2 separate regions of the Homo sapiens genome follow, and region 1 is linked to region 2. A link means that fine-mapping ties the variant in region 2 to the plasma level of a protein whose gene starts in the linked region. Region 2 holds a variant in brackets. A gene starts in the other region. All regions are shown on their reverse strands.

Evidence for each region. PIP is the chance, under the fine-mapping model, that this variant and not a neighbour inherited with it causes the effect. Protein levels are from antibody-based Olink assays in UK Biobank. Linkage for the fine-mapping came from a reference panel and not from the study's own genotypes, which makes the PIPs less certain.
Region 1: KRT5 starts here. The variant in region 2 is fine-mapped to the plasma level of the KRT5 protein (UK Biobank, PIP above 0.99).

What each region holds. Positions count from the first base shown.
Region 1 is chr12:52,519,379-52,528,466 of GRCh38, reverse strand. It overlaps KRT5 (keratin 5), which reads left to right and starts at 8,073. Exons shown (of 9, transcript NM_000424.4): 1 at 8,073-8,725. The coding sequence starts at 8,171. RefSeq lists enhancers at 5,201-6,166, 8,986-9,088.
Region 2 is chr6:160,701,992-160,711,291 of GRCh38, reverse strand. It overlaps PLG (plasminogen), which reads right to left and starts at 9,048. Exons shown (of 19, transcript NM_000301.5): 1 at 8,939-9,048; 2 at 4,750-4,885; 3 at 3,486-3,592; 4 at 101-215. The coding sequence starts at 8,987. The variant T/C (reference allele first, on the strand shown) is at 4,823.

The DNA.
Region 1 (9,088 bases), not on the chromosome of region 2:
GGCTGCTGATGTTGCTGACGGGGATACTGGCTCTTCAGGGTCCCCTCAGCAATTCCCCTTATGTGCTGATTGAGAGCATAAGCTCTAGGAGCAGCCAGACCTGGGGTCAAATTCCAGTTTTGACAAATATTATCCATATGAGCTTAGGTAAGACATGTTCCTTTCTGAGGCTCAGAAAACGGGACAAATAGTAGTGCTGATCACCTGTGGATGAATATGGATGAATAGTAAGTAAGATAACGCATGCTACATTTTGGCACAATGTCAGGCACACAGTAAGCACTCAGTATCCATTCACTTCAAAGAAGGGCTGGAGGAAATCAGGTCCAGTATCACCAAAAGCAACGAGGCTACATATCTCAGTGAATGGTGCTAATTTCTTTTCTAAGTGGGGCAGCCTCATGCAAGGAGCTGGTCAGTCTCTAAGAGGCCACAGGGTGGTTTGGCCCATCCCAAAGGATCCAAAATGCCAAATAATGCTCAGGCTGGGTTATTCCATTTCATACTCTCCTGATCATGGCCTCTGCTCATCCTGAACAAAGTGTTGCAGGGCCCTGTTTGAGTGTCTTGGCCATAAGCGGTTGTGGGGTTTGGAGAGGGGAGGAATAGAGCGAATCGCTGAAGCTTGGGCCAAGACACTGGGCTACTCCCAAGGTATTAGGAAGTATCAGCAGTTGTTAGCCACGTCTCATGCATCTGGAAGGACTGCCCCAGGAAGCATCTGGGCTTTGCCCTGGGCCTAGTGCCAGGGTAGGAGGGAGATGGGTGTCAGGCGATCCCCAGGCTTCCCCCTTGAGGACATTGTATAGGATTTTATAGGGAACCCCAATCCCCTGAGTCTTGCCCCAGAGTCTTAGTGGTCCTGCCCTGGGTTCTGGCAGTTCAGAGAAGGGAGGGGGTCTCCAAGGGCACCTCCCCTGTCTATACTCCAGGGCAGGGGTCCCTCTCTCTTGGGGCTGCTGGAAGATGTTATGGTATACTGACTGCTGAGTGGTATCTGGGGCCCTCTCTGTTTGCTGCCTTCACAGACTATCCGGAGGTTGAGGCCTCTGCTGAAGTCATCCTCTTCAGAGTCAAATCACAAGTCCTGCACTGAAAATCCAAGTGCCCACAATGGTGATGACAAGGGCTTTTGGAGACACCCTTGCCTGGGCTCTTACCTAGGCTCTGTCACTTGCCAGTTGCTTACCCTCTCAGGGCATCAGTTTCCTCATCTGCAAAACAGGGATCATATTAGGCCCACCCCACGAGGCTGTGAGGAGTAAATGAGTTGATACATCCAGAACCATGCCTGGCTCACAGTCAGTGCCACTCAAGTGTGGTGATTGCTGTCATCTTTCACCAAGCCACAGAGCACATCGAGGGCTCAGGCTCATCCCATGCTGTGAGCTTTTTGGGGATCATGAAAGTCCAGAACTTCAGAGAGACAAGCTGCCTAGAAATCGTCAGATACATCTCCACATCTCCCCCATTTGCAAGAGACTGCCAGAGAAGGCATCTGGGTCCTTGTTTCACGTTTTGTGCCAGAGAAGATGGGAGTGGGGAGGCACAGTGTAGGGAGGGAGGGAGCAGGCAGAACCAGCACTGAGCACTGACCCTCTAACATTAAATCGGGAACCGGCCGACATGGGGTTGAGGCTGTGAAGGGATCCACCTGGCTGGAGAGTGGAGGTGAGGCCGAAAGGCCCTGGGGACCAGGGACTTGTGAATGAGCAAGAAATAGTGGGAGTCCTTGACAACTGTTACAGAGGATGTGGGTTTGACTGGAGGCCCAGCTAAGTACTGTGAGGCTCTGGGCACGGGCAGAGGGAGTCATGTGTGAATTCTAACTCCTTATTATCAGCCACTGGAGTAGAGGCGATCAGCGTCTGCAGACTGGTGGGACCTCATGGCCTAGAGCAGACAAATGCCTTGGAGGAACAGGCTTCGGTGCTAACTTAGGCTTGAAGGCCAGTCTGCTCCCTGGAAAGACCCAGACCAGCACCTGGACATGAGGGCTCTGGACAGGGGAGGGGTGGGGAGCAGTAAAAACACCCTCACCCATCACAGTCACCTGTCAGCCCTGTCATGCACACAGCCCTCGGGAAATGGCTCTCTGAAGAGGACTGAGACGTGCAGCCTTGGACTGGGAGACAAGTAGGCTCTTGCTGAGGCCCAGATGGGCAGTGCAGGGCAACAACAGCGTGTGGGACAGGACCAGGACCCAGGCTTGGCTCTCACCTCACCTTGCCAAGGGCTTGGCGTTAGGCTCCACCTCCCTGAACTCAGCCTGTTCCTCTATGGATGGATCACTGGGCTGGTTTTTTTCTCTGAAACCAAGTCAGGCCAGCTTCCCTAACCCGGCCCTTGCACAGTGACCCGTCACTGTCAAGTGGTGTGGGCCACCATCCTGGGTCTGGTAAGGAGATCCTAGAGGAGACCCAGCCCTGTTCGCAGTCCTGGAGTCTGAGGGAGGAAATGGGGAAGGGTACAGGGTCACACAACCAGAGTCCAGAAGTCCAGTGCATGGCATCTGCCTTGGCCAAGTCACACATGTGGAACAGGACCTGATTCAATGACTGGCATGAATTGAAACACTCCTGCACGCTCTCTTGTCTCAGTTGCTTTTTGCACTGCGTCTCCCTTGGAAGAAGCCTTAACCTGTTTTCACAAACCCTCAACAGTGATCGTTGGTCCAAGTGGACAGTGAGCAGGTCAGTGTTCACATGTGCTCACGGAACATGAAGATGGGAGCTGCGAGTGTGTCCTGGAGTCTGAGGGAGGAAATGGGGAAGGACACAGGGTCACAGTCTCACATAGACGGTGGGACTGGGGCCAGCAAGGTGTCCCATGGCCTTGAGGACTGTGCAGATGCCGAGTGCATTTCCTGAGGGTGGCCCTGGGAGAGGCAACAGCTCCAGCCTCAATGCTGTCATTTACTTTCTTTTCTCCCTCACCATATTACCACCTTCTGTACTGATTCACCCCACCTGCCCTCCACCCATGATCAGAGCTCACCTGACTCACCCCACCTTCCCCCCACCCATGATCAGTGCTCACCCAAAGCAGGAAAGCCAGATGGAATAAGGCTCTGTCTCCGGCACTTGCCCTCCCTCCCAGGACCAGGAAGCCCTGAGCCAAACACAAACTTGGGGAGGGGGGCAGCTGTAGCGTCTCCTCTGCCTCCCCGTTCCCAGTTGTGGCTACTGGTGAGAGAACAGAAAGTAGCAGGGAGAAATGGAACAGTGGGTGAGTTGGGGATGTCAGCAAGCTTCCTTCTGCACCTCTGATGCTGCAGGGATACAACCTGGTGTAAATGAGTCATGTCTCTGCCTCTCCACTGAAGAGGGAGGCTGCAAATCCCCAGAGTATGGGACACACTGACACCTACATTGGACAGCCAAGCTGAGGAAGTGCTAAGAGCCCTTCTTTGCATGCTCTAGTTTCATATTCATATATGTAAAGTGTGCAGGGCAGTGCCTGGCACATGGTCACTCCTACGTAAGTGTTTATTTAAAAAATAAAACCACCCTCTATGAGAAAGCAAAGCGCAGAGGATTTTGCTGTATATCCTTTTTTAGTCCCTCTGACTAATTAAAGTATTTGTTGATTTCCAGCCCATAGTTTCAATCAACCAAGGGGGATTTTCAAAGAGTTTGGTGTGCCATGAGCAAAACACCTTTCATACGAGGGAAGAACATTCCTCAGACTTGCAGGGGCCTGCTGGAGGGAAGCGGAGGGCTCTGCTCTGCACCCTCTCCTGCCAGGGCCAATCGGCTGCTGAATCTAAGGGATGGGGGCCAAGGCTGCTCCCCACAGCCCCCTGCAGGCCTGCCCCTCCCTTCCTGCTCAGCCCCAGCCAGCTCAAAATTAAAATTCCAGCTTGCATGGCCCCTCCAATGAGCCCAGGCCCCTCCCTTCTCTCCCAGCTGCACTGGACAAAACTATGCAGTGAGAGGTTAGGCAACTTGCTCAGGGTCCCAGACCCATCCAAGGACTGGGTCAGGACCAACACATGGTCTGGAGTGGTGCCACATGCTTTTGCACCTATGCTGTGACCCACAATGTGTGCGAAGCCCGTGCACAAGAAAAACTCAACTCCAGGGGGTAACTTGTCACTATGACCTCAATAATGGCAGCAGGGACTCACCTCCAAAGGCCCTCTGAGCCAAGGCTGAGCAGTTGCTTTATGTCTGGACATTTGCCTTTCTACCTAGTCCGGTTTTCAGACTGGGGTCTGAAAGCCCTAGAGACATTGGGCTGTAGGAGGGAGGGGGTGGTGTGTCCAGCTCTGCAGATCCAGAGTGGCCACTCCCCTCAGGGCCCTGTGATTCTGAGAATCTAGCTAGGACCAGAGCTGGGACCCAGGTTGGGATGGGGGCAAGATTCCGCTGGCTTTGGGTGGAGGCAGGAAAATTCTTCCCTCAATTCCCCCTGAGGCTAGGGCTTTGTGAAGAGCTATCTTGGGCTGGCCCGCTGTTCCATCTGCCCTTCCCCATCCTGCGAATCTGGCTGCAGGCTCCCTGATGGGGCTGCCAACCATAGCCCAATGAATAGGGTGACTCACACCTCAACTATTGCTCCCCACTTTTTGTGCTGAACAAGCGTGAGGTGGAAGGGCTGCAAAGTTGAGGCCACTAAAGCTTTCTTTCTCTCCTGGAGGGGCCTGGGGGCTGGGGTGGCACGTGCAGGCTACTTGTTAGTGGGCTCAGATGCAGAACACCCTCAGAATAAGGGTGAGGGAAGAAGAAGGATGGAGGGAAGCCTAAGGAATAAAGAATCCTAAATGCTAGATTAAATCCTAAATCCTAAACACAGAGCATACCCAGTGTGAAGGGGACAACAGACTCATCCTGTAGACACGGACTGAGAGACAAAATCAGATGGACAAGACTCTGAGACTCAGCATAGGGCTGGAGGATTCACAGAAATATATGTGAATATATATAATGTATATACATTCTGTTATACATAGGTTGGTGTAGATATAGGTTGGTGCAAAAGCAATTGAGGTTCTTGCCATTGTGGGCTTCACATAACAATCTGGGGAAGGAGCGGAGGAAGAGGATTTTCTGTCTGTCAATTCACTCCAAAAAATATCTGCAGAACACTTCCAGTGCCCAAGGCTGGGCTGAGGGTGTGGGCCATGCAGAGATGTTCCCTAACCTTGGAGACTGCCCTGCTGGGGGGGACTTAGAGGATATGTACAAATGCTGTTTTATGGAACATGTTCTATTTATCATGCTCTATTAAATGTATCTTCTACTAAAGCCCTACAGATTGGAGTGGAGGCTCTGAGGAGAAGGAATCCTGGGCTGGGATGGCAGGATTTGCCTAACCCTTGTTCCACGAATGGATACCACCCTCTCCCTGGTGTCTGTGAAGGGCTTCTCCATGTATGAAATGCTGACCAGGTCCTACATTCCCTGCACAGCTCTGCGAGAGAGGTCAGGGCAGCCAGCTTACTGTCCTTTCTCTGATGGGGAGAGCAGCAGGGCGGGCCCTGCACTGTCTTCTGCTGACAAGGAAAGCAGCACCCAGAGGAGAAGCTGAGCAACATGTCCCACCAAGCCTGGGAACTGCCTCTGTGGGGTGCCCAGCAGGAAAGCTCCCTGGTGAGCCTAACACAATCCCTCCCTTCCTGCCACAGTGAAATTCCAGGCTGGGGTGGGACTCTCCCGAGCTGCAGTGGTGCTGGTGCCTGGCTCCCCACCAGGAGCGGCTCCATTATTTATACCTGTCCAGGTCTGGCATTGAGGGAGGGGCTGCCCTGCCTGCTCATGGGAGGATTCCCACGAAGCTCGGATAGAAGAGTGCTGCTGCTTCTCCCATGGAGCACCCACATGCTCCCTGCTCCCATGGAGCACCACACACTCACCGTTGGTCCCTGGCACATGGATCTGAGCTTGGCACACTCTAGCAATCCTCAGACTAGCCAGAACGCATTCCTGCTCTGCCAAGTCCTCTTTCTTCACAACACAGCTGGGAGGAGAATGAATGGGGAGAAGAGAATGTCCCAGTGTCTCAGGAGGGGTGGGGCTTCCCTGAGGGCAGTGAGGTCTGTACCCGGGACCTGTGAGTGTATGTGGTGGTGGGGATATACCCCGATATCGATCTTTGAGTGGAGCAGGAGCATCCCACTACGAGTCCTCAGACACTTGCTTCAGGCTTGGATCTGTTCTGTTCTATCAGGAGCCGAGGGTCCCCTGGTATGTCTCAGGCCTCCAGGACACTCACATCTGTTCTCCAGAAAGCAACCAAATGTGAAAATGGTGAGCTCAGCACAATTCATCTCTGAGGGTCTCAGAAATGCTCCAGCCAGGGAGGCCACCCAAACCATTTTGCTCAAGACCTGTAAGACCGGCTCCGGCCATTGGTCTGTCTGCCGAGATTGACCTGTCAGCTGCTTGCTCATCGCAGCCCTCTGGTGAGAAGTCACTGTTTCAGCTGATCCTCAGCACCAGGGAGTCATTTTCCCACTGCCTTGGCTTCCTTGTGGCCAACCGCAGGCCCTGGTGAGAGATTCCTGAGCCTGGGTCTGGTCCTGTTCTTCTACTCTTGAGAATATAGCCCCTCCTCCCTGAGGCTTTGAAGCCATCCCCATTGCATTCCTACCTCCAGCCTCGGGCCACAGGGCGCCCCCGAAACTCTGAACAGCCCAAGCACTGTCCTGCCTGAGAGCCCTGCTTCTATTTGGGGGACGGCAGAGAGGTGGCCCCACTCAGATCTGCTGCCAAAAAGAGTGGGTGTGGTTTAGAACAGACGTGTGTTAAAACCTCATCAGAAACCCCCTTTCCTCCACCTGGTGCCACAACCCCCCAGACAAGTTTTGCAGAGGGGATCTCAAAGGGCCCTCCCTAAAGCAGCTGGCAGATTGTCATGCCAGCTGCCTGGGCCCACAGGCCTGCTCTGGCTAGCCTTTCTGGCAGGACAATCCATAGACTTAGAATCCCGTTTTCCATTGCCTTGGCCCTGAAGGAGGCTGTGGGCTACAGCATAGAGAAAGCAGAGCAAGTCCCGCTGCTTGGAACAGGGTGGTTCGCCGTTATAACAGGCCGTCAGACTCTCAACATGTTCCTGATGAGATTAGAAGCTCCTGCAGGTATGTGTTTGTGGCGGCCTTCAGCCTGTATCAACACATACGATGACTCATTTCTTCCCTAGTGGAATAGAGCTTGCTGGAACACACCTGGGGGGCTGGGGAACCGGCAGAGTAGCTACCCCCAAAGAGAGACGCTATAGCCCATGAGTCTCAGGGTTTTTTTTTAAGGGATTGCATGGGATCCCCGGGTTTCCTAAACCCCCCACAGAGTCCTGCCCAGGCCAAAGAGCAAGGAAAAGGTCAAAGGGCAGAAAAAATGCTGAGTTAGGAGGAGCTATGGAAGGATAAACCTGGCCTTAAAGAGGTCAAAGTGGTTTATAGGGGGCGCTGAGGGCTTCCCACATTCTCTGGCCTAAACCTTGCAGGCAGATCTGCCCAGTGGGCTCTGGGATAGCTGTGCCTTCCCTAAGAAAAAAATTGTGCAGAAAAGGATGAAACTCTATTTTCCCTCTAGCACATAACCAAGAATATAAGGCTACAGATTGCCTTTCCCAGAGGGGAAAACCCTGCAGCAACCTGCTGCCTGGAAAAGTGTAAGAGCAGATCACTGGGGAATCGTTTGCCCCCCGCTGATGGACAGCTTCCCCAAGCTGGAAGGGCAGGTGCTCAGCATGTACCGTACTGGGATGGTTGTCAATACTCCTGGTCCTGTAAGAGTCCCCAGGACACTGGCCATGCCAATGCCCCCTCAGTTCCTGGCATCCTTTTTGGGCTGCTCACAGCCCCCAGCCTCTATGGTGAAGACATACTTGCTAGCAGCGTCACCAACTTGCTGCCAAGAGATCAGTGCTGCAAGGCAAGGTTATTTCTAACTGAGCAGAGCCTGCCAGGAAGAAAGCGTTTGCACCCCACACCACTGTGCAGGTGTGACCGGTGAGCTCACAGCTGCCCCCCAGGCATGCCCAGCCCACTTAATCATTCACAGCTCGACAGCTCTCTCGCCCAGCCCAGTTCTGGAAGGGATAAAAAGGGGGCATCACCGTTCCTGGGTAACAGAGCCACCTTCTGCGTCCTGCTGAGCTCTGTTCTCTCCAGCACCTCCCAACCCACTAGTGCCTGGTTCTCTTGCTCCACCAGGAACAAGCCACCATGTCTCGCCAGTCAAGTGTGTCCTTCCGGAGCGGGGGCAGTCGTAGCTTCAGCACCGCCTCTGCCATCACCCCGTCTGTCTCCCGCACCAGCTTCACCTCCGTGTCCCGGTCCGGGGGTGGCGGTGGTGGTGGCTTCGGCAGGGTCAGCCTTGCGGGTGCTTGTGGAGTGGGTGGCTATGGCAGCCGGAGCCTCTACAACCTGGGGGGCTCCAAGAGGATATCCATCAGCACTAGTGGTGGCAGCTTCAGGAACCGGTTTGGTGCTGGTGCTGGAGGCGGCTATGGCTTTGGAGGTGGTGCCGGTAGTGGATTTGGTTTCGGCGGTGGAGCTGGTGGTGGCTTTGGGCTCGGTGGCGGAGCTGGCTTTGGAGGTGGCTTCGGTGGCCCTGGCTTTCCTGTCTGCCCTCCTGGAGGTATCCAAGAGGTCACTGTCAACCAGAGTCTCCTGACTCCCCTCAACCTGCAAATCGACCCCAGCATCCAGAGGGTGAGGACCGAGGAGCGCGAGCAGATCAAGACCCTCAACAATAAGTTTGCCTCCTTCATCGACAAGGTGAGCTACGATCTTTTGTAAAAAATCACTGTGGGTCTGAAATAAATGCCAAAGAGAGAGAAAGAAGGAAGATGTTTTGGCTTTGTGCAAATACTTTTATAGTTGTACAGTTCTGTGTTTCCGTTTGTTTCTGTGCCCTGGATTTGTGGACACGTTCTGAATTAGACTGGCAGCTGGGAAGGGAGAATTATTTCTTCCCATTCAGAGGTTAGCTCACAAGGGCCTCTTAACAACTGTTGGACAGAGAGATGAATTTCATGCCATATATAAAGGGGCTGACTGTACAGGAAGGTAGACAAGTGCATGGGCAGCAGCCTGAGTGCCTTTGCAGCCACCCCTGAGCCGGGACACACTCCAAGCAGC
Region 2 (9,300 bases):
TGGATTTTGGTAGCCACAGGGGTCCTGGAACCAATCCCTCACAGACACAGAGGGACAACTTTACAGTAGATGAACACAAAGATGAAAGGGAATGTCTTACCTAGGTCTGTGGGGAGAAGTGGAACTCCATTTTTGACAGGTGATGCCATTTTTTGTTTTGGACATCGTCCCTCTGTAGTTCTTTCCATTCCCAGTCTTGCACTCTGAGAGATACACTGAAGGGAAGTCCACACAGTGGTCAAAGTCTTTCACAAGACACCACATGAAGGTCTGCACAGCATAGTCACGTTGAGAAAAAGATCTCATGCACCAGACCCCCTGTTTCTGCTTTCTAAAAGATCATCTTTTGCATCTGCAAAAAGGCTGCAGTAAACTGAGCCATTCTTTGATTCATGTATTCAAATGCTACTTATGAGCTCTCTGTGTATCGAGCCCCACCAGGATGCTGGGGACACACGGGGCACAGTGCAGCCAGAGGCTTGGCCGTCATGGAGCTTACATTCTAGTGGAATCAGGCAGGGGGGTTACAGGAAATATTCAAGGAAACAATATAAAATGAGATCACTTAATGATGATACATATTACATACATGATGAGACAGAGTGAGAGAATGGGGAAAGGGCTTTTTAGATGGGGGAATGGCAGGCTTTTCAGAGGCTGAAAGAGATCCAACCCACTTCTATTTCTTCAGGCTCCCAGTGATATGAAAAAGTGCCAAACAGGGCTATAAAATTGTGGTCTACTGTAAATGGTTTGCAGTAAAAGTTCTCAACCAGCTTCCACTCAACCAACTCACCAGTTAGACAACGGGCCCTCTCCTGTGTTTAAAACAGTCCGGTGCCCACCTGGGTCCACATGCAGCTGGCAGGTGTTTGCTAGTGTGCCCACCCATGTCTGTTCCCCCCACGTGAGTTATGTGCTTACAACGAGTCATTTCTTTGCATTTTCCAACTTTCTTACATTTATATTTAATTAAAGATGATCTAAACTGAGAAATGAATGTGAAAAGAAACAAAGCTCTTTTTTGTTTGGTTTTTAACTAAATTAAATGTTTTTAACAAGTTGAAACATGAATCATTTAAAAAATTGCTATCAAATCCACAGAGGGCAATCCACTCATATAGTTGACTATAAAGCTTGAGGAGGAATTCATAAAAATCTAAAGGTTTTACACATTCAGATTGATTAATAAATGTCGAGATATGGTCCACTTCAAAAATAAGGAAAGTAATTATTGTAGATGTTGCACTGGAGCATAGTTTATGCAGGAAATACACCAGAGACCTTCTACTGGTGACCCCATATTCGAAGAAGAAAAGCCTCTGCTCTACGTCAAAAGGTGTCAAGTACACTTGTGTTTTCAATGAAAATATAAAATGTTTAAGGTATATTTACACCATCATTTAAGGTTACCCACTTTAGCCATTTTTTAATTAATTGATCAATCACATGGGGAAAGTGCTCCTAACATACCTACAGCAAACTAATGCTTTTAACCCAATACTGCGTATTATGATTGCAAGTACATCTTCATTGGGACATAGTATTACAGTAGACATAAGACACTCATCAAAAGTGTAAACTCAAGGTACTTTGTGAAAGGGAGGTCTAGGGGTCAAGGAAGATTTGCAAAGGACATGATGATTGAGCTGACACCTAGGAGATAAGAAGGAGCTGGCACAGCAGGACAAAGGTGAAGAGGGTCCCAGGCAGGAGGGTGTGTGCTTGGGGTGGTGAAGGAACAGAAGTAAGGCCAGTGTAGAAAAGTTTAGCAAGCCAAGCAAACAGCAGCTGGGGGTTACTTAAATAATGCTGGGCCCTAGCACATTTGGGAAGTCTTTGGGTCTTATTTTAAGGGCACTAGGAAGGGCTTTAAACAGGGAAGTTACATTTCTTAGAGATCATGTGTACAGCTACAAGTAGCCCCAACCAGTGGTGATAGGGTCTTGGACTTGGTGAAGGCAGTGTGGCTGGTGGCAAGTGGCAGAAGTAAATGTGATCTAACACTGACTGTTCCTGGCAAAACCCTGGCAGGTAAGTTAGTAGCAGGTCAATATCCCACAGCAAAGAAACAAGGACCAAAAAATGACTGACTTTTGACTTTTCACTTCTTTTTTTTTTGTATGTACCCATCAGAGTTTATATAACCTTTTGCTCCCTTCTGTCACTTTGAAAACAAGCAAACTAAGCCTTCAAACTTCAGACTTCAAACTCAACCTACAGTCATTCCCATGTTCCTTCTGGTTAACAATTTACAAATGACATATTTAAATGTTAGCATTTTGTAGAGAGAATCAGGAGAATCAGGGTTTTTTTTTTTTAAAATCTGGTACAATTAGGTGATCCTATTTAGTTTACCGTTTGCTTGCTACTTGTAAGAACTAATAACTTCACCAGATAAAGTTTAGATTTAATCTGCACTTTAATCTCAAGAATTCGAGATAAATAGTGGTAAGGAAGGAAGTACAATGCGTACAGCTAATGAAACCCAGGAAGATGAGTCAATGCATAGAAATAATTCCAACCCAAATAAATACTATTTAAAATGCTACTTAGAGTTTTGCCGTAATACTAGACACAATATGGCAAATCATCCTCAAGAATACAAGAACTAAGGTGTTTCCAGTCCTCTTTAACACCTGGGATGCAGAATGTTTGGAGAGCTAAATTGTTACTATTAACAGTCTTAATACCTGGCTACCAACACAGTAGAGGAAACAGTTTTTAAAGTGTCATGCATCCCTTCAAATATTTATACTTGATGGGATATGCTTAATGGGAGCATACTTGATGGGATATACTTGATGGGAAATGCTTAATGAAACATTTGCACATCTAAAAAGGCATGCAATTTCTATTGAAATCCTGTCTGCCTCTTATTCTAAGCAGTGGGACTATTGACCCACATTTTAAAATAAACTATAGAAAAGGAACTGTAACTTTTACACATTTTTAAAAGACAACATTTCAGAAATCTGAGAAAAATATAGACCATGTCCCCCAAAATGTGAAAAATTTAAGAGTAAAAATAAGATTTGTGTCCCAATCTAAATGTTTCTGAGGATTAAAACACCTCAGTATTTCTGTTTTACAAGGCTTCATCCAGATGTTAGGGCCCAAGGACCATGGTCACCCTGCAGAATAAGAAGCCAAGACCAAAAGGAATGCTTAGACTTCCCATCTCCTTGTTAAATATAAAATAATATTTTAAAAATCTTATTTTCAGGGTCATAGAGGTAGAAGTGATTTTGTAAATCTAATCCTTTCATCTTTTGAACAAAAAAAATTAAATCTAAGAGGTGAAGTAATACACTCAAGCTGACATGGTTAGTTAGTAATCAAATCCTGTCCTAACTCAGAATTCAGTTTTATAACACGATAGTGCCTTCCTCCTCTGGTCTTATAAATTAAAGATAGAATAGAGAAAGAGGAAGAGTGGGAGGATGGGGAGGACAGTAGGAGGAGGAGGAAGAAAATGTACTCACCTTTCTTTTCAAATAAAACTACATCTCTCATCCTAATGATTATGGAGGACTTCCTGTTTTCAGCCATTATCACACATTGTTGCTCTTTACTGTGATATTGGAATGCCCTGCAGAACGAAGCAGGAAATCCAATAAGTATTTTTCTTTATTTAAAGAAAACAAATGTTTATTAATAAGTGAGACATGCTAAAGATCATTGAATATCTTGAGGGACCAGAGAGCTCAGAATTGCTGCCTCTTTCAGTTATTTGGGCATGGCATCGATGAAGTACTGAACAAAATACACCAACGTGGCAGCAAATCTTATCTGCCCTTACCTTCCCTCCCTCATAATTTTCCCTTTCTTCCTGTTTCAACTGCTTTACTTCTTCTTCACTCATCTTCTTAATTTTTGTTTTTGGGTTGGAAAGAAGCAACTCTGGTTGCTTTGAACCCATTCGCCAAGATAGTCCGTCTCCATGACCTCCCAACTCTGATCAGTTCCCCTGAACCTCTGCTCCACATTCCACCCCACCCTGGCCCCTGACCCCTCCCATCTCCATCCCGTGGTCCTGCTATGGGTGCTCAGTCTGGATTCCATAGCTACCTTCCCAAGCCCGTCACCTACACAAAGTCTCTGCTTTAGTCAACTTCATCTCTTAATGGTCCCCCTCAGAAGGTGCAGGGCCGCATCTTCCCCTGCCTTCCTGGTGCTTGTCAAGAGCTCTCTCAACTCCAAACCCAGCTCAGTTCCCACCTCCTCCCTGAGCCTTCTCTAGCTGCCTCAACCTTAGGCACTGTTCTTTCTTCTGGATCTGGGTAGAGCATGCATTGATTATGCCTGTACCTCACTTGGGCTGTCTTTTTTTTTTTTTTAACATTATATCCAGTTTCTTTGACTACACCTTAAATACTAAAGGGCAGGCACTGGATCTTGTAGCTATAAGTCATTGCTCAGATCTATCTAGGACACTTTCATTCACCTGATCCTCAACAAACATTTACTGATGATGATGTTGAAAACTGGAGCTCAGAACAATAACTGCTAATGTTTGTGTCCGGTGTAAAAACAAATAACTTCCTTTGAGGGTATTTTTCTAACAAAGACTCCAATAAACCTTAACAAGAAGCTGTTAGTATGGCTTCACATACTGTGAGCAAATATAGTTCCAAACTCTGGCTCCATAAATTTCTCTTTCCTCTTAAATCATTAATAAATTTGTGAGTAAATTACTTGCCATCTGAATTACAGATTCCTGCGTAGGTGCAACGACAATGGAAATACCTGCAGGTGAATTCTTCGTCCTCCTCACATTTTGCTGCACATTCTTCTATACTTCCTGCTCCCAGCTGCTTCT[T/C]AGTGACACTGAACAGTGAAGCCCCCTGGGTATTCACATAGTCATCCAGAGGCTCTCCTTGACCTAGAGGTGGGAGATCCAAGTGGAATAAATGGTCAGTAAATCAATGTCAATGTCTAATTGTCATGACTTCCTTTTAATCTATTTGGTTAGCATTAACCAAATAAAACTTTCTGTTTACTGGAAGTAGAATGGGTAGCTATGAATCAAAATGTTTAGTTAAGAACACACAGTCGGGCATTTGGACATAAATAAAGATGGCAACTAAAGACACTGGGGACTACCAGAGAAGGGAGAGAGGGAGCAAGGCAAGGGCTGAAAAACTACCTATTTAGTAGGTATTTAGCTCACTACCTGGGTGATGGGATCATTTGTACCCCAAAGCTCAGTGTCACGCAATTTAGTTATGTAACACACCTGCACATGTACCCCTGACTCTAAAAGTTGAAATTATAAAACAAAGAAAAACAGTTTCATTAGCAGATTGCAAGATAGTAAAAGATTAACTGGATTGACAAACAGGTTAGAACTATGGAACCACTACTATGTTACCATATTAGTGGATATAAATCCTTAAACAAGAACAAATTTTATGTTTGCTATTGATTGTGCCATGTCATGAGAGAAGAGTAAGGCACCATCAGTGGCAGTTGTGTTACCAAGATTGATGTTGATTTGTTCATCCCTGGGTAGAAATGGAACTTGGAGGCCATTGTTTGATTTCCTACAATATGCGCTTTGGTTCTGGCACTGTCACTTGAACCGGTGGGAAGCATCCTCTGAATGGTCCCTCCTTGAGAAACATAAATTTTGGTGCATAGATGATGGTGGAAATAAACAAGAACTGAACTAAATTATGTTGCCACCTTGGACAAAAATTGGGCAAAACACTGGAGGGTAAGAAGCTCCCCAACAAAGAAGGCCATTTTTGTACTGGGCTTATGACAGTCACACAACACTACTAATTGGGGAGAAGTCAGTTTTTCCAAGGTGTTGACAGGTATCTGGATTTCGGAGGAAATTGTAAAAAAGCAGGACCTGGGACAAATACTGGTCTTGGTTTTTCTTTGAGATCAAATCTGAGACAACGAATCTGTCCGAAAGCTGCTTTCTGCCTGGTCGTGGCAGAGGGTGGCCAAGGGGGCCTCAGCTGTGCTCCCACCACAAGGCTACAGGGTGTCCCCTTGTCCTGAGGCTCTTCCAGACATCTGGCTGAGCTTTGGTAGCTCTATTCCAAGCCTGGAGATGCCAGCTCCGTCCTTGGCACAGAATGCTAGTGATTTGCACAAGGGTGAGAGGCCAAAAGAGGCTAATAAAATGAAGACAGGCAAGCTCCATGGAATTAGACAACAGGACAACCTTGACCACTTTGAGGGGCGTGGTGGGGGCCGCAGGCAGAGGGGGTGGGTTACAGAGTGACTAGGAGAGCAGTGGAGGCTGCAGCAGGAGACAAGCCTGGCTCTGAAGACAGCGAGCCCTCCAGGGAACATGCGGTCAGGGGAGGTTCTGAAAGATGACACACTGCAGAGCGCATTGGTTTGTATGCTGATGACAAGTATCCAGTAGGAAAGCAAATGAACAGATTTTCATTCTCAGAAAGGCCTGTCCTGACCTCCTGAGGGTACACAGAGCACAAGGGGCAGGACAGGGAGGTGGATGCATGCTCATCGATTCATGCAAAGTCCTCGGCCAAAGTCCCCCTGCTCCCCACCTCTGGGACTTTGTCCTTCCTCAATTTAAGACATTCCGGGCTGGAAAAATGGATTATTGAGCAGGAGTTGGCTGATGCATTCTAAAGCTAATCCACTAAAAAGCACTTGAGAGATATATCAAAAGATCACAAAGAAATAGATGCTTTAGGCCCATATCCATGTCTTTACCCCGCACTTTCTGCCAACTTGAACTCTCATTTTCAAGAAGAGTTGTGTTTTGGTTAATTCTATATAGCTCACAGTGTGACTTCAAAACACACAATAAATCCACAAAGTGTGTCCTACAGTGAGTTCAGTTAAACTTTCTGAAGAGTTTTTTTGAAGTATAGCAGAGCAGGCTACAACTGATATTCAAAAAAAGAAAACTTCCATTTATTTCCCCCTTCAATTAAGTTCTCTGTGTTATGTTACTATGCTTCATAGCGCATCGCTGCTGAGATCCCCTCCCCAGCTCATGTCCCTAGGAAATATCCCAAAACAGAATCAAACTTTTCTCTTTTCAGTTTGAAATAATTTTCCCCCATTTTTTCTTCTCTTATTCACCTCTAGGACTCATATGGCAATAGGATTTGATAGGGCTTATTTGCTGGCAAGGAAACATCAAACAAATCTTTTAGTGGAAAAATACATTTATATTATAGGCAAAATGCAGATGTATATTGCTACTGATGCAAATGTATTTTATTAATGGTGTGAGAATTTCTTCCTCACTGTGGTGTGTGAATGTGTATGCATATTTGCATGTGTAAAAGACTTAATTTGTGAAATGGAAGATGTTTCTCCACTTCCCACTAAGCATGGCTGTAAAAGAAACTTTTCCCTCTCCCCGGGCATTGCAGCACACTGGAAAGATGATACATCCACAGAAAACCTGGCTTTCCAAAAGAGCTTATGAGAGAATGTGCCCACCAGGTGGGTTAAAACATATGTTAATCCTGTGGCAGAGAAGTTTGATCTAGCCTTTGGGTGTAGCCCACTGAATAAGTTCATAGTGATCTATGTCCTAGTTTCCATGCATTGAAATATAATATTCATACCCCCCAACATACACCAATTTCTTACAAAAATTTCTTTAATTTTCTCCTGCTCTGTATTTTCTTTGATAGCTCCTTGAATGGCTTCCACTAAATTCAAATGTATTTGACTCTAAAGTGCAACTTGTAAAATTTTATCTGGTAATTTATAGATTGAATTTCAAGCGTACATTATTTACATGAAGAACTACTAGCAAATCGTATGATTCCGTTTGTATGAAATGTTCAAAATGGCAAAGATATAAATACAGAAAGTAGATTAGTGGTTGCCAGAAGCTGCAGATTGGGGGTAACAGCTAAGGAGAGTGGAGTGCGTTTTTGGGGGTATGAATAGTTTTAAAATTTATTCTGATGGTGGCTGCACAACTCTCAATATCTTGAAATCCATTGGATTGTATGCCTAAATGGGTGAATTCTATATGTTAATTATATCTCAATAAAGCTTTTTTTTTTTTAAAGAAAAAGAAGTACTAGGACATGTTTAGAATATTCTTTCAAAGGCTTAAACAAAGCTGAAAAGTGAGAAGAGCCCTAGATTCCTTCTGGGAAACCTGGCTTAAATCCAGTTTTCTTTATTTCCCAGATCTGAGAATTTGGTCACTGAGCAAATAACATGATATTCCTAAGTCTGATTTCTTTGTTTATAAAATGAGGATGAATATGCTACCCTACCTATACCACGAGCTAAATAAGCTAGTATTTGTAAAGGATACACACTCACACTCACATTCACACACAGGTATGTATGTATGTGTAAAAATGTAGGGACCTAACCCAAGCAACTGAGTATTTGTTGATCACTATCTGCACACAGCATCTGGCAAATGGATGCGTGTGATTTTTCCGGGGATAAGAGGCAAACGTATACTGATGGAAAGCCTTCCTCAGGCCATAACAAAGGGAGAAATGCTGAGTCCCCGACCCTGCCGCCACCATGAACTGGTGAGAGAACGGAATATATTCAAAGAGATATTTCACTGTTTTAACTTGCAAGTGAGGGGAGCATGACACCGTAACAGAGATGATATAAATTAGTCAAACTGAGAACCAGGCAAAGAGCTTAGCCGTCCTTTGCATAATTAGCTACATTGGCTCTTTTTCAATTAGACTGGCCATTATGTGGGTGCACTCATTTAGATTTGAAAAATCACCCATTATTTTCTCTGCCCATTCATTCCAGCACCCTGACAATCTTCACAGGAAACTTAAACTTATTTCTTGAAGAATTCCTCAATCTTATACAAGATTTTCAACTGGAAGTTTCATGAATCAAAAATTAAATGAATTGCACATAAAGCCATGGCATATGTATTTTTACTACATTGTGGGAGAAAAAATAATTCTTATAATTTAAAAAAACTATGTCTTACCTGATTTCAGAAATAAAAGAAGTAGAAGAACCACTTCCTTATGTTCCATTTTGGGACTGGCCAGCAGTGCCCAGAAAGTGGGTCCCAATCCCAGGATGTTGTTGACTTACATGAGAGTAAACGCATCCACAAACCAGATAGTCAAATTAAGTTAATGATTCTCTCAGAGACCCATGCCACTGGCTCAGCAGGGTTCAAACATTACCTTGAATAAAGAGTCCTTACAACATGTTTGAGGGTGGAATCTGCAATAGATGCTGGGAAGTGGTGAAAGCAATCTCCCCCCTCGGCTGCTCCACGCTGCCGTCATGTCTCCTTATTCCTTCCCTCACCCTTGTACTTTATCTCTCGCAATTAGTCTT